2 separate regions of the Homo sapiens genome follow, and region 1 is linked to region 2. The links come from fine-mapping of genetic effects on gene expression. A gene starts in region 2. The other region holds a variant in brackets. All regions are shown on one strand. Distances are from middle to middle. Region 1 overlaps ZBTB8A (zinc finger and BTB domain containing 8A). Region 2 holds the start of RBBP4 (RB binding protein 4, chromatin remodeling factor).

Region 1 (8,274 bases), 46 kb after region 2:
ACAGTAGTATTTTCCTGCCTCTCTAGTATTCCATTTAACTGGAACTAAAGAATGACTTAATTCAATTATTTTATGGAATTCTAAAGTGTAGCAATTGAGCTTTTACAGAGCTTGGAGTGTTCTGGTTCCTTTCTTTAAAAAGAAAATATTAAAGCTTGTAAAATTTCAGTATGTAGTATTTCAGTCACGTATTCATTACATAGTTCTTTTATTGGTTTGAAATACTGTGTGAATTCCCAGAATGCAATACCCATAATCAAATAAAATGCAAATGCATCCCAAAATAAAAATGGGGTATTTTAAGACTACTCATTATTTTATTAGAGTGTCGATATTACTTGTCTCTATTAAAAACCTTAGATAATGGAACATGCAGTGTGTCTTGAAATTTTACAAAAATAAATATTTTCCTGGACTGGACACCTCTATTTTTAAATTTTTCCTTAATGATACGGTTGAGAACCAGTGGACTGTAAGGTCAAATAGTCCTACTGCCTCTCCTTGGCATCTATATGGGGAGGACAGAGGGAAACCTTGAATGGGCCCTATTTTGCATGTCACAAACTTTGGGAAGCTTTTATTTATTTATTTATTTATTTATTTATTTATTTATTTATTTTTATTTTTAGAGCCAAGATCTTGCTGTATCGTCCAGGCTGAAGTGCAGTGGCACCATCATAGCTCACTGCATCCTTCACTCAGTGATCCTAAGGCTCAAGTGATCCTCCCACCCGAGCCTCCTGAGTAACTGAGACTACAGGCATGTGCCACCACGCCCACCTAATTTTTAAATTTTTTGTAGAGACTGCGACTTGTTATGTTGCCCAGGCTGGTCTCAAACTCCTAGGCTCAAGCAATCCTCCTACCTCTGTCTCCCAAAGTGTTGGGATTACAGGCATGAGCCACTGTATCCAGCCTAGGTTTTTTTTTTTCAGACGGAGTCTCGTTCTGTCGCCAGGCTGGAGTGCAGTGGCGCAATCTCAGCTCACTGCAAACTCCGCCTCCCGGGTTCAAGCGATTCTCCTGCCTCAGCCTCCTGAGTAGCTGGGACTACAGGCATGCGCCACCACACCCAGCTAATTTTTGTATTTTTAGTAGAGATGGGGTTTCACCATGTTGGCCGGGATGGTCTCGATCTCTTGACCTCCTGATCCACCCGCCTTGGCCTCCCAAAGTGCTGGAATTACAGGTGTGAGCCACCGTGCCCAGCCAGCCTAGCTTGCAAAAATACTTACACCCAAGCCCCACCTGCCCGAGATTCTGATTTGCCTAGGCATCTGTATTTTAAAAGATCCACAGGTGATTCTAATGTGCAACCAAAGTTGAGGATCTCTGGTCTAGGCAGAAATGTTGTTCCCTTTTTCCCTTATGGGCTGAATAAAAATAAGTTTCTCTTTAATAAAGAAAATAAGTAGTTGTAAGTAATATCAACAAGGAAATAAATGATTTTCCCAAGGGGAAAATCAAGAAACTATATAATGGAATTGTGTATCTGGAAATCTGAAAGAGCAAAGCAGGCAAAGTATAAAATTCTGCTTGCAAATGATCTAGCTAAGCGCAAAGGTAAAGGTAAAGGGTATTTCCCTGGTCTCTGGTTTCCTTTTTTCTTTTTGAGACAGTCTTGCTCTGTCACCCAGGCTGGAGTGCAGTGGCGTGATCTCAGCTCACTGCAACCTCCACCTCCTAGGTTCAAGCAATTATTGTGCCTCGGCCTCCTGAGTAGCTGGGATTACAGGCATGCGGCACCACGCCAGGCTAATTTTTGTATTTTTTATAGAGATGGGGTTTTACCATGTTGGCCAGGCTGGTCTTGAACTCCTAGCCTCAAATGATCCGACCACCTCGGCCTCCCAAAATTCTGGGATTACAGGTGTGAGCCACTGTACCCAGCCTCTGGTTTCCTATTTAAAGGTGAGAAAGTATGCAACGGATTTTGATGGTTTGAAGAAAAAAAAAAAAAAAGAAAGAGTAGGGAAAAGTGTTATACTATTTCAGTAATTGCAAAATATTTTGACTTCAAGATATTTTGACTTCAAGAGTCCCTTTGCTTCTATTGCTGTGTGGTTCATTACTTGTTAACATTATATTTAAATATTTTACTTTTTTGGTGGCATTAATACAGTTCTGTGGGGAGAAGGCTGACGTGAAAATGAAGTTTACAGATTCTCGGTGGATTTCATTTTTCTGGCCTATTCATAGGTCCATTAGCAGGAATAGTTAAGAAACTCCTGTATCAAAATTATATGTTACTTATACTTCACAATATATAAAACAGCTGGCTATATACTACCATTTCTGTGATAACTTGAATTTTATCATTAAAACTCTTGTAACTAAAGGCACCAGTGGCCCGTCTGTAACAGCCGCTGCTGCGATGCCAGCTGCAGTGAGGGAAACGCAGCTGAGGCTCACGGCTCCACGAAGCCCACAGGGGCTGGCTACAGGCAGGAGCCCTGCCCCTACTGAATCGGCAGGGCTGGAGTCCCACACTTCTGGGCACAGCTGCAGCCGCCCAGCTGCGGCTCCAGACCTGGGCATCCCTGCACTCTTCAGGGCTTGGGAAGCTCCCAGCGCCCACAGGCTCAGAAGTGCCTGCTCCCATTCCCTGGCCTCTTTCTGCTCCTGCACCTGCTCTGTTGCAGAGCAAAGTTGGGCCAAACCTAGGTGTTGTCGTGACCTGGCCAGGTTGAGCATGCTAGAGGTGGCACTGACACGCCAGCCCCCTGCCACCTCAGCCCCCTCTAAACTTTGGGCACCCATGTGCGTGGGAGGGAAGCCAGTCAGGGGGTTGATGACGGTGGCTTGGTTTGGGCCTGCAGGCGCCCCTTGGCACAGTCTGGGCACCATGGAGGGCATGTTGATGGCAGGAGGCAGACAGGTTCCTGGGTGGAAAAGGGTGGGTTCCCAGTGAAATCCCCCCTTCAAGCCAGGGAATGCCTGAAGCCTGGGGGTTGGTCTGGCAGTTCCTGGTGGAGTCCAGGGCTAGAGTAAGAACTTGTGGTGTTTTCTGGGCTGCCCATGGACACCCACAGACCAAGCAGCATGCACTTCCTCCCTTCTGAGCCCATAAAAACCCCTGGTCTCAGCAGACTCAGCCGGCTGTCAGGACTACCAGCTGCAGGAAGGAGCTACCCGCTTTGAGTCTCCTTAAAAGGACCTGCCTGCAGGTCTCCTCTTGGGTGAGAGCTGGTCATCTGGACACTCATCAGGTCGACCTGCCTGTGGAAAGGAGCTATCCACTTCGGGTCTCCTGAGAGCTGTTCTGTTGCAGAGTGAAGCTCCTCTCTGCCCTGTGGAAAGGAGCTACCCACTTCAGGTCTCCTGAGAGCTGTTCTGTTGCTCAGTGAAGCTCCTTTCGGCCTTGCTCACCCTCCAGTTGTCTGCGTACCTCATTCTTCTCGGATGCAGGAAAAGAACTCGGGACCCACCAAATGGTGGACTGAAAGAGCTGTAACACAAGCAGGGCTGAAACATGCTCCCTGCTCACCACGTTGTGGGCGACGAGAAGGAGAGAAGAGCTGCAGCCCTTCTGGCAGCCCAGACCTCGGGGCTCCCTGAGCCATGGTGTGACATGCTGTAACACCCTCTTTGGGGGTCTGCAGTTCC[C/T]GGCATCTCTGAGCTTTCGGGCACCACTGCGTTCCACTTGTCCAAATGCTGATGCCCGCAGCGGAAGCCGCTTTCAGTACGTCTGGTCCCGCTGCAGCCTGGCATGGAGCTGGTGCCTGTGCCAGCGCCTAGAGCTGTCCACCCCACTGCAGCCAGTGTGCCTGGTTGTGTGCAGTGGCCGGACCCCACGCTAGCTCACTCACACACCCGTCACTCCGTGCCTGGCTCACCCTCGGCAGGCATGAGATCCAGGCTGGTACCACCAGTGGACCACAGCCTGCCAGTCCACATGGGTGGAATGAGCCCAGCAGGCACAAGCAAAACCCAAGCAGAGGAGCCACCGGCCAAGAGGTTTCTGGCTGGTGGCAAAGCAACACCCTAAGGATCCTGTGACATAACTAAAGTCACATCCTTTACATAACATTTATTCCATATAGAATGTATCCACATACAATGACGTCAGCTTTAAAACAATCCACTGTTACTTATATAAAATCATCTATAAAATAGAGTGATACACAACACACCTCAGTGAATTAGGCTGATGGTCTAGGATTCAGAAAATGTGATCATTATATTTCCTATTTTTTGCTACCATTTCACTGGGTTGTCTTAGGTTCTTTTTTTTTTTTTTTTTTTTTTTTTTGAGGTGGAGTCTCGCTCTGTCACCCAGCCTGGAGTGCAGTAGCGTGATCTTGGCTCACTGCAACCTCCGCCTCCTGAGTTCAAGCAATTCTCCTGTCTCAGCCCCCAGAGTAGCTGGGATTACAGGTGCCCACCACCATGCCTGGCTAATTTTTGTATTTTTAGTAGAGAAGGGGTTTCACTATATTGCCCCAGGCTGGTCTCCAACTCTTGACCTAAAGTGATCCACCCGCCTTGGCCTCCCAAAGTGCTGGGATTACAGGTGTGAGCCACCACGCCTGACCCTGAGGTTTTTTTACTGTTCTGTGCCTCAATTTATTTACCGTTCATGTGGGATAACTGTCCTATTTCATATATATGTAAAGAATAACAAAAATTATTAAACACTTTGCAAATATAAAATGCTATATAAATGATAAATAGTAATACTGATACACTTATATAAAATAACAAAACTTTCTGGTTTATAATCTAAAGTTTGGTCCTCCTGTACCTATTATTCTATTATTATCACCCTTCCCAGTTAAACACATCTTTTTTTTTTTTTTTTTTTTTTTTGATGGAGTCTCGCTCTGTCACCCAGGCTGGAGTGCAGTGGTGCGATCTCGGCCACTGCAACCTCCACCTCCCGGGTTCAAGCGATTCTCCTGCCTCAGCCTCCCGAGTACCTGGGATTACAGGCACCCACCATCATGCCCAGCTATTTTTTGTATTTTTACTAGAGACGGGGTTTCACCATGTTGGCCAGGATGGTCTCGAACACCTGGCCTTAAGTGATCCGCCCGCCTCGGCCTCCCAAAGTGCTAGGATTACAGGCATGAGCCACCGTGCCCGGCCAGTTAAACACACCTTATCCTACACTGCTTTTAGTGATTTTCCATACTTATTAATTTTAGGACTAAAAAAAATTTTAAAAACCAATATGAGTGGAAATTTCAATATATCTTGGCATGACTTGGCAAAATAACTTTAATGAATTGAGTTCTGAGCTCATAAATAATTGAAGCACCAAACTTCTTTCATCCATTAGGCAGTACTTAGCCGTACAGAAAACAGTAACTATGCTTATTTTGATTGCATTACTGAAAATATAATATTGAAACATTTGTTCCTAAATTTTAAAAAGTCTTAAGATCTGATACCCATAGAAGGAACATCATGTGCTAAGGATGTGATTTGCTTCACTAAGAGACCATATGGTTACCTGCTTATAAGCACCGTGAGTAACAGGAGTAACGAAATGAGGCTGCAAGGCTCAAAGGGAATTCAGGAAGTTGTCTAATTCCATGGTTTTCAACATTGTGCACCTGAGTTCTGCAGAGGTGTCTGGGGAAAGGTTTGTGGGGGACTTTAACCACAGCAGCTCTGATTTTAGAGTTTATCCCTTAAATTTGAGCATCTTTAGGAAACAATTCATTTGAAGAGTTTCTCGGGTTAAATTATTTTAAACTGCAGGTCTAGTCCATTTTGTTTCTCCCAGACACTAGGCATGACTGCAGTGGTGCTTTCTTTTTGTAATGCTTCATCCTATACCCAGACACTCTTGAGGGTAATGGAGTTAGAAGGGCATTCAGAAGCTGATAAATGGCATTCCTGCAAGAGCAAACTTTGGTCTAACCAAGTCTTGATATTAAAAAAAAAATCCTTGGCATAAATAAAGCTTATTTAAACAGATTATACCCCTATGTAACATTTGCCCACATGTAAAAACCAAAGAATTCAATTTTCTCAATCATCAATAGACAGTTTCACTCTAGAAAATAACTGGTCTCTAACGTCTTAGATATATATGCTATAACTGGAGTCATTATTTACAACTTACAAACATGTCTTAAATGTTCTTCTATGATGTTAAAATGATACAACAGATTCTTTGTCTAGTTTGGTGAACTTGATCATTTTGTGGGGATAGTTTGATGCTCGTTATAAACAATTATGAGAAAGCATTATTTCTGAAAAGGCAATTACAAGTGCTGGTGGCACTGTGTTCAGTGAATGTTGGATATTCATGCTGATGTATGTAAAGTTTGCATGCAGAAGATAATAGCATAAAAGGACATTTAGATCATAGACTAAAGTGCATTAGAGTACACACATGCAAGCACTACTTCATTTATAGGAAAAAAGTTCAAATCAGCCATTTTTCCTACTGGCTCCAACAACTAAAAAATCAGGTTTTAATTTCAAAAGGTGTCAGTATTAATTGGGTAAGACTAGAGAATGACAAGCGTTTCCTTCCTCATTCAGATACACTTTAATTGTTAAGAATCCTGATTTAGGCCGGGCGTGCTGGCTCACGCCTGTAATCCCAGCACTTTGGGAGGCTGAGGCGGGCAGATCACGAGGTCAGGAGTTCGAGACCAGCCTGGCCAACATAGCGAAACCCTGTCTCTACTAAAAATACAAAAATTAGCCAGGCATGGTGGCACATGCCTGTAGTCCCGGCTACTCAGGAGGCTGAGGCAGGAGAATCGCTTGAACCCGGGAGGCAGAGGTTGTGGTGAGCGAGATCACGCCACTGCACTCCAGCTTGGACAACAGAGCGAGAGTCCATCTCAAAAAAACCAGAATCCTGATTTAGGAACAGCCATGTTGGGAGAACAGAGAACTCAATGCACATCATCCAGTCTTGAAGCAACTGCAAATGTGCCATCAGGGGAATCTTGAAAAAGTCTCAATTAAGTACCATGAAACAAGTGGTTATTCATCTATTTTTAAATTTTTTAAAAGAAAGTAACCAATTTAGCCTAGAAATTGGTATCAAGGACAATAATTAATGAAAGAACAAGAGAAAATAGTAACATAAAAAGGATAATTTTGAGGTATGTCATGGCATTTAAAAATACAGTAAAATTGGCTGGGCGCAGTGGCTCACGCCTGTAATCCCAGCACTTTGGGAGGCCGAGGGGGGCGGATCACGAGATCAGGAGATTGAGACCATCCTGGCTAACACGGTGAAACCCCATCTCTATTAAAAATACAAAAAATTAGCTGGGAGTGGTGGTGGGCGCCTGTAAGTCCCAGCTACTCGGGAGGCTGAGGCAGGAGAATGGCGAGAACCCGGGAGGTGGAGCTTGCAGTGAGCTGAGATTGCACCACTGCACTCCAGCCTGGGCGACAGAGCGAGACTCCGTCTCGAAAAAAAAACAAAAACAAAAAAGAAAACAGTAAAATAGATGGAGCCTCTCCATATACAGTGAAATTCTATCAAGCTTCACTGTGATAACTTGCAGAAGAGACCTTTATGAAGCTCAGTTCTTTACTTCGGATATTTAGATTTTACCTTTAGAACTGAAACAATGCTTCTCTAATTTAGCTGTAATTTTGGAATGTTTCATAATTTATGCAGGGGAGAAGTTTTTTTTTTTTTTTTTTTTGAGACGGAGTTTCGCTCTTGTTGCCCAGGCTGGAGTGCAATGGCGCAACCTCAGCCCACCGCAGCCTCTGCCTCCTGGGTTCAAGCTATCCTCCTGCCTCAGCCTTCTGAGTAGCTGGGATTACAGGCATGCACCACCACGCCCGGCTAATTTTGTATTTTTAGTAGAGACGGGGTTTCTCCATGTTGGTCAGGCTGGTCTCAAACTCCCGACCTCGGTGATCCACCTGCCTCAGCCTCCCAAAGTGCTGGGATTACAGGCGTGAGCCACTGGGCCCAGCCCAAAGGGGAGAAGTTTAAACTTTGTATACTAGGAGAAAAGTTTGTTTTGAAAATATTATATAAACAAGAGAAGCAAAAATGTTCAACATATTTAAGTGAATAATTTGTTCAAATAGTTTTATACTTTAAATTTACATATAAATAACGTGACATAAAAACATACCAATAGGTACTGTAGGGACATTACTTAGCATTATTTGAAAATCTCTAGATCAAGATATTGTATGTTGTTGAAAATGATTCAATTCCTCCTTTCATACTTTCTAATTCTGATTGGCTTATTTTTATAATGACTGCCAACTGGTGAGGTTTGACTTCTATTCTTTGCCATTTCAGGAGACATACAGGGAGAGAAGGCTGAAAGA
Region 2 (8,332 bases):
GAACTGCTTGAACCCAGGAGGCAGAGGTTGCAGTGAGCCAAGACGGTGCCACTGCACTCCAGCCTGGGCGAAAGAGCAAGACTCTGTCTCAAAAAACAAACAAAACAAAAAAAACCGGCGGCTGGCTAATCCCAGCTACTTGGGAGGCTGAGGCACAAGAATCGCTTGAACCCGAAAGGCGGAGGCTGCAGTGAGCAGAGATCGTGTTACTGCACTCCAGCCTGGGTGACAGAGAAAGACTACTTCCTGTCTCAAAAAAGAAAAAAATAAATAAAAGAAAGAAAATTAAACAATTTGCCTAAGATCACACAGCTACTAAGTAACAAGTATGCTGAAGTCCAAATCTGACTTCTGATATGGGAAAGCACAGTGGGAGAGAAGGCCGATTAAAACTGACTATTTAGTGTTCTGAATGCCGTCTTAAGGCATTCTGTACTCCATACTGGGTCAAGGGCATCCACATCATCTGGGAACTTGTTAGAAACGCAAATTCTCACATCTACTCCAGACCCATTGAATCAGAAACTCTAGAAGGTGGGGCACAACTAACTGTTTCACAGTACCTCCAGCTGATTATGATGCATATAAAATTTTGAGAACCCCTGGCCTAGATGGGAAAGATGCTACACAACCAGAATTCATTGGGGTTTATAAATTGACTGCCTATAAAATGGAGAAAGAGAAAATGTCAAACTAAAGCCAATTATGATGAAAAGAAATAGGAACAACAGGAGAGAAAGTTGGGGTAAGGCCTTCACGTAAGGAATAATTCCATTTACAACATGTCAAACTGGGGAAGCCAGTAAGATATACCAGGGAAGACACGGGCAGGCAGAAGAAAAATCAGGAAAAGCTCTGGAGAAGTGAGGTCTAAAGATATCAATAGGAATTCTTCTGCACAGATGTCACAGGCAAAGCTCTGAGAGCTTCTACATTACACTGAAAAGAAATGAAGAGAGATATGAACAGAAAATTGGAATTACCTGTATGTAGAAGGTTAGACAAGAACCAGAAAAAGAATGAAGGAGAGGACAGTGTTACAGAACTACAACCGTGGTTTTTCTTTCTTTTTAAAGGGGGGAAACGGATCTGGGTAAACACCAGAAAAAGAACACACACAAAAGTAAACACTGCATCAGGGCTGCTTGCTTGTAAGTAATCCTCATCTTAAAAAACAAAAACAGGGCCAGGCACGGTGGCTCATGTCTGTAATCCCAGCACTTTGGGAGGTCAAAGTGGGAGGATCACTGGAGCCCAGAAGTTAAAGAACAGTCTGGACAACATAGCAAAAAAATTTTTCAAAAATTAGCCAGGTATGGTAGCGTGTGCCTGTAGCCCCAACTATTCCAGAGGCTGAGGCAGGAGGATTCCTTGGCCCAGGAGGTCAAGGCTGCAGGGAACTCTGATCGTGCCACTGCAACACAGTCTGGGCAACAAAGCAAGATCCTGTCTCAAAAACAATTTTCAGCCAGGTGCACTAGCTCACGCCTGTAATCCCAGCACTTTGGGAGGCCGAAGCGGGTGGATTACCTGAGGTCAGGAGTTCAAGACCAGCCTGGACAACATGGTGAAACCCCATCTCTACTAAAAATACAAAAAATTAGCTGGGCGTGGTGGCGGGTGCCTGTAATCCCAGCTACTTGGGAGGCTGGGGCAGGAGAATCGATTGAACCCAGGAGGCGGAGGTTGCAGTGAGCTCAGATCATGCCACTGCACTCCAGTATGAGTAACAAGAGTGAAACTCCGTCCTCCGTCTCAAAACAACAACAACAACAAAAAACAATTCTCACATTATTTATCTAGATTTGCTAATGCAGAAAACTACTAAGATGACAGTACAGATTTCAGCCTTGGGGAATTAAGTCTTTAATTCTTGCTTTCGAAACCTAGCTAGTCATTCTATTATATTACTTGGGAAGTTTCTGAAAAGTAGGGGTTCTAGAATGTTTAGTAGGTATGGGATGGCCAATATTTGTGATCCACTAGTCCAATAAGCACAATTTAGCATATGACTATAGTAAATGTGGAATCACCATTCCAGTACACTTCTCATTAAGTACTCTGCCACAAGTTCTTTTTCTTTGAGACAGGGTGGCAATCCCTAGCTCAGGCTGGAGTGCAGTAGCAGGATCACAGCTCAATGCAGCCTTGACCTCCCAAGGCTCAGGTGATCCTCCTGCCTCAGCCCCCACTGAGGAGCTGGGACTAACAGGTACGCACCACCATGCCCGGATAATATTTGTAATTTTAGTAGAGACGGGCTTTTCACCATGTTGCCCAGGCTGGTCTGGAACTCCTGGCCTCAAGCAATCTGCCTGCCTCAGCCTCCCAAAGTGCTGGGATTACACGTGTGAGCCACCATGACCAGCCCATAAGTTCCTAAATGGTTTGAATTACCACTGAAAACTCTTGACAGAAATGATTCCAATTATCCTGAATTCCCCAAGCAATTCTGATGATCAATTGCATGTGGGAACTCCTGGTCATGATAAAGAAGCTTCTAGGCCGGGCGCGGTGGCTCACGCCTGTAATCCCAGCACTTTGGAAGGCCGAGGCGGGTGGATCATGAGGTCAGGAGATTGAGACCATCCTGGCTAACACGGTGAAACCCCGGCTCTACTAAAAATACAAAAAATTAGCCAGGGGTAGTGGCCGGCACCTGTAGTCCCAGCTACTTGGGAAGCTGAGGCAGGAAAATGGCGTGAACCCGGGAGGCGGAGCTTGCAGTCAGCGGAGATCACGTGACTGCACTCCAGCCTGGGCAAGAGAGGAGACTCCGTCTCAAAAAAAAAAACAAAAACAAAAAAAAAAAAAAAAAAAAAACCAGAAAACAAAAAACACACAAAGCAGCTTCTAACTCCCAATTTCTAGGTTTTTACTATGGTTTTGTGTAACATCCCTAGGACACATTTCCCTATTTTTCCTTATGCCACTGTAAAGGTAGCAGCCTCATTCTTAAGTTACTAGTATAATTTCTGCCAAATTTCTATCATTTGTTGAGCTACATCATAGTCTAATAACATTTTGCAATTATCTTAACTTTTAAAGATCCAAGTTTTGAAGGAATTTACTTAGCATACAATCGCTTTTGAATGTAATTCAGAAAACTTACTTTTGTACCAGAAAATCCATTATTCCAAATGGCACAATGGTCTTGTTAAAACTATGTTAATATCATCTAAATTTACCCTCCTCTTTGTTTTTTGCATTGTCATTTCTTCCTAAGAAATGAGGCAAATTGAGGCAAATTTTCCTTCCTCTGATAATTTTATCTGTACCACTTTTATGCTAATTATAACTAATTTGGATCCCCGATATGTAGCACCAAATACAGCCCCAATAAATGCAAGCTATTTTATCCCCTCTACTAGAGATAAGCTACCTACACGTAAGAAACATAGGATTAATCTTTTAGCCCTCACTATGCCCAAACCCCTTATAAGAAAGCCATTCCACCTTCAGGTGTTTTCTAGGTACCCTAATTATCTCTCTACAACTGCTGTCACCATATATAACTATAATTATTAGTTTATATCTGCCACTTCAACTAGACAATGTGCTCCTTGAAGGCAGGTACCATGACATACTACGAGAATTCAAATTAAGTTTTGTTGAGGCCAGGTGCAGTGGCTCACGCCTGTAATCCCGGCACTTTGGGAGGCAGAGGCGGGCGGATCACCAGAGGTCAGGGGGTTGGAGACCAGCCTGTCCCACATGGTAAAACCCCGTCTCTACTAAAAATACAAAAAAATTTAGCCAGGCGTGGTGGCAGGTGCCTGTAATCCCAGCTACTTGGGAGGGCTTAGGCAGGAGAATCGCTCGAATCTGGGAGGCAGAGGTTGCAGTGAGTCGAGCTCGCGCCACTGCACTCCAGCCTGGACAACAGAGTGAGACACCGTCTCAAAAAGAAAAACAAAAAATTTTTGTTGTAAGGACTAGACTCATTGTAATACTTTTTTCTTTTTTTGTGTGGGGGGCAGTAGAGACGAGGGTATTCCCAGGGCTGGTCTCCAACTCCTGGCCTCAAGTAAGTCTCCTGCCTGGGCCTCCCAAAGTGCTCGGATTCCAAGTGTGAGCCACTGCTCCTGGCCATAATACTTTTTGAAAGTTGACAAGTTTTGTACTATTATTTGGTACAGCCACTATTATTACAGGTATTATCATCAGCTACAGCTATTTAATTCAGTATTGAGAAAAAAACGCCAATATGTTTTCTCTTGTCAGGTAAGTTACAAAATCATTTTGTTATTTTGCCTTACTTTGTGGCCTAGAAAAAATGTCACCAAGAGGTTTTGATCACATGCCTTCTCCGGGTGACTGAAGAGCGGAAAAAAGAAAATCAATATGAGAAATCTACACTGAAAATACATCAAAATAACGTTCGGGAGAGTCATGTCACCTGGTTACATCTGGAAGCCACTGGGCAGTTAGGCTGGGCCACTCCAGAGCATGGGTCATCACCAAATCATAAAGAAAAGGGGTGTTCTTTTTCCATATTTTGTATTCCTCGTTGATCACTCGTTCTTCCACTGCGTCGTCGAAGGCTGCTAAAATTTTTAAAAACAAATTTAAGTTAGCAAACAAACGGAAACCGAGTAATCCTCTGCAAAGCCACCTGCATGACTCCTACAGCCTAACCATGAAATGGAGGTGATTTGTCTAAATCCCCACGGCAGAGGCATCCACACTCTCCACTTTCGCGGCGCCGAAACTCCTCGGGCCATCCCCGCCAAACACTCCGTTACCCGTTCCAGGCCAAGGGGCCAGCCAGGCCTTCGGAGCACGCTCGTGCGCGCCGAAACTCACAAGCCCGACGAGGAGGCCCGAGCTCCGAGCCTTGTGGGTAGGAAGCGGTGTCCCCACGCTCGGGACAGAGGCCGAGAAACCGATATCGGAGGCAGGAAGAGAAACAAACACTGGCCGGGGGCCCCACCGCTGGCTTCGCCAGCTGCGACCGAAATCGGTCCCAGGGAACTGGCGAGCCGTTAGCACGCCCCGCGGGGAGTTCCCTCTTCACGCCTTCAGTACCGGGGACTGCACTCGGCAAACTCGGGCCTGCCCTCACTGTTAGGCCATGTCGAGGCCGCGGCTCAGCCCAGGCACCCACTGCCCTCCTGGGTCGGCCCCGGCACCCTCACCTTCCTTGTCGGCCATGGCGGGCAGGCGAGCCGGGGGAATCCTGGGGTCGAGCGTTGCGGGAGGGGCGGGGAGGCTGCAAGAGCTCGCTCTGTGCGCGCGGCCTCTATTGTTTCCTGCGCCCCCAGCGCGAGGGCTGACTCGCGCACCTTCGCGCCAACATCAGCCAATGGGAGCGCTCCTAATGGCGGGATGGGCGGGGAAGCCGCGTTCGCGACCAATCCAGACGCGCGGAGTAGCTTTCCGCGGGGACCGAGGCGCGCGCTCCGCCCCTCCCCCCACGCCTCCCCGAGCCGACTTCCAGCGATTGCGCGCGCCGGCGTTGACGGGACTGCGCCCGGTCAGGGTCACGTGAGAGAGGTTTGGTCCGCACACTCCCGCGGCAAGAGGGCAGCCATTTTCTTGAAGGCTATTAAGCTTACGACCCTTTCAGAGTACTGAGATGAAAAATCTAGAATGCCTTCGGGTCTAGTTATCAATTTTGGGGGTGAAGCGGGGGAAAGAACCTCGCCAGTCAGACCCAGACGGGTTTCATTCAAGGTGCCCTTCAACGTTTTTCCTTAGTCTTTGGAAAGAACTAGTAATGAAGGAATCGCAGAAGATGGGGTTTTGGCTTTTTAAATATGCGATCCAAGCGGCAGGGTAGGGACTAAAGTAGGTCAACAGCCAACTCCGAGAAAGGAGTGTGGTCCTTTAAGGGTGTGCGCCAAGGGGCGGAGTCTAGAGCGGAAGTAGTAACTCCGGGCCGAAGTCCGGTGGATGAAGGGCGGAAGTAGAGTGTCTAATCCTGCAGTCATGGCGCAGGAAGAGGAAGATGTTAGAGATTACAATTTGACTGAAGAACAGAAGGCGATCAAGGCCAAGTATCCGCCAGTCAATAGGAAGTACGAGTGTGAGTAGGTGGCTTACTTCTCTCTTTACATGTAAGCACACAGGCATCCCCTCTCCTTACCCGCGGCTTCCTGCTGCTCTTTCTACTGTGCCCCATGGGTACTTCAGGCATGATCCCATTTGTGCCGGCTGTTGTAGTCGCGTTCGTACTTCTCCTGGGGATGCTGAAGGAAAAAGCCACCTGGTTTAATAGTCGCGAAACCTGGCCTCCCTCATTTACAGTCTCTTGAACTTCTTCCACATGTGCCTAATCACATTTATCTTCGTAAATTCTAAAGATAACCATATTTTCAGGCGTTTGCAGGGTTGTTACCCCCATGTATTTCCCAACGGTGAGATTAGAGTGTGCGAGGTTAGAGGACTCGGAAAGCTAATTAGGGGATTTCTAACTTGATGTTTCACCTCGATCATATTAGCAAAAAACCTGGTTTTGCCATTTATGATTGTGATTTTTAAAAATGATTATTTTAGGCCGGGCTCGGTGGCTGAGGCCTGTGATCCCAGCACTTTGGGAGGCCGAGGCGGGCGGATCACCTGAGGTCGGAAGTTCGAGATCAGCCTGACCAACATGGAAAAACCCCGTCTCTACTAAAAATACAAAATTAGCTGGGCGTGGTGGAGCATGTCTGTAATCCCAGCTACTCGGGAGACTGAGGCAGGAGAATCGCTTGAACCCGGGAGGCGGAGGTTGCGGTGAGCCGAGATCGCCCCATTGCACTCCAGCCTGGGCAACGAGCGAAACTCTGTCTCAAAAAAAAAAAAAAATGTGTGTGTGTGTGTGTGTGTGTGTGTGTGTGTGTTTTTAGAGATGGGGTCTCGCTCTGTCGTCCAGGCTGGAGTGCAATGGAGCGATCATAGCCCGCGCTGCAGTGCCCAGCTGGTTTTGCCATTTATTCGCTTAGTGACTTTAGGCAAATCACATAACCTATCTTTGTCTCTTAAATTCTATATTAAACGTTAAGCTGTCATCCCTAAAGGTAGCTGTGGTTTGGGGAGCACAAATCTGACTTTTATTTATCTGCTTAAAATCTTTCATTAATTTCTCATTGTCCTCTCTGTAAAATCTACTTATTTACCATAGTATTCTAGGCAATGTGCTTTCTGGAGCTGGCATACCTCCTAGCATATCCCCTTCTCTCACTTAAAAACAATTTTAAAATATTATAGGCCGTTTGCGGTGGCTCACACTTATAATCCCAGCACTTTGCGAGACTGACGTGGGTGGATCACCTGAGGTCAGGAGTTCCAGACCAGCCTGGCCAACATGGTGAAACCCCGTCTCTACTAAAAATACAAAAATTAGCTGCGCATGATGGTGGGCGCCTGTAATCCCAGCTACTCGGGAGGCTGAGGCAGGAGAATTGCTTGAACCCAGGAGGGTGGAGGCTGCAGTGAGCCGAGATCACACCACTGCACTCCAGCCTGGGCAACAGAGTGAGACTGTCTCAAAAAAAAAAAAAAAAAAAAAAAGGCCTGGTGCTGTGGCTCACGCCTGTAATCCCAGCACTTTGGGAGGTTGAGGCGGGTGGATCACCTGAGGTCAGGAGCTTGAGATCAGCCTGGCCTGGCCAACATGGTGAAACCCCATCTCTACTAAAAATACAAAAATTAGCTAGGCATGGTGGTGGGTGCCTGTAATCCCAGCTGCTTGGGCGGCTGAGGCAGGAGAATCGCTTGAACCTGGGAGGCGGAGGTTGCAGTGAGCCGAGATTGCACCACTGCACTCCAGCCTGGGCGACAGAGCCAGACTCCATCTCAAAAAAAAATTATTTTTAATAGGTCATATATATTGATTTGAAATTCAGAAAGTGTAACATAGGCAGTGAAAAGTAACTCTGGCAGCCCCCATCCTCAACTACCTAGTCCCCCTCTGTAGAGCAGTCATCGTTACCTTTTTCTTACATGTACATACCTAGATGTTCTAGCATTTGCTTTAACCAATTTTCAGTTGATGGACGTTTAGGCTATTTCTACTCTTGTGGTATTAGAAACAGTGCAGCAGTGAATACACTTGTACATCCACTGTTTTGTACATGTGCAAGTGAATCTGTAGAATCAAGTTCTCCAAGTTTTTTTTGTTTCCATTGCTAAGACTCCTACATTTTTTAAAAGGATATTTTAACTTGGACAGTTATTGCCAAATTGCTCTCTATAGGAGTTGTACCAATTTATACTTTCACTAGTATTGTGTGAATGTGCCTCTTTCCTCCCACTTCTACTAATTGTTACCATACTTTTTTATCTTTTCTAATTTGTAAAGTATACTTACTGTATTTTTCTTATTGTAAGTGAAGTTGAACATATT

Evidence for each region.
Region 1: its variant is fine-mapped to the expression of RBBP4 in monocytes (TOPMed, PIP 0.90).

Annotation. Positions count from the first base shown.
Region 1 is chr1:32,601,683-32,609,956 of GRCh38, reverse strand. It overlaps ZBTB8A (zinc finger and BTB domain containing 8A), which reads right to left. Exons shown (of 5, transcript NM_001040441.3): 5 at 4,016-8,274. It overlaps LOC102723870 (a long non-coding RNA gene), which reads left to right. Exons shown (of 3, transcript XR_426677.5): 3 at 630-1,408. Among named protein-coding and RNA genes, the nearest start is that of ZBTB8OS, 45 kb to the left of the region's middle. RefSeq lists an enhancer at 2,877-3,377. The variant C/T (reference allele first, on the strand shown) is at 3,607.
Region 2 is chr1:32,648,129-32,656,460 of GRCh38, reverse strand. RBBP4 (RB binding protein 4, chromatin remodeling factor) reads right to left here and starts at 5,253. Exons shown (of 12, transcript NM_005610.3): 1 at 5,139-5,253; 2 at 4,400-4,547. The coding sequence starts at 5,154. ZBTB8OS (zinc finger and BTB domain containing 8 opposite strand) reads left to right here and starts at 5,911. Exons shown (of 7, transcript NM_178547.5): 1 at 5,911-6,028. The coding sequence starts at 5,932. RefSeq lists enhancers at 4,605-4,704, 4,865-5,453, 5,454-6,041, 7,175-7,314 and a silencer at 5,005-5,574.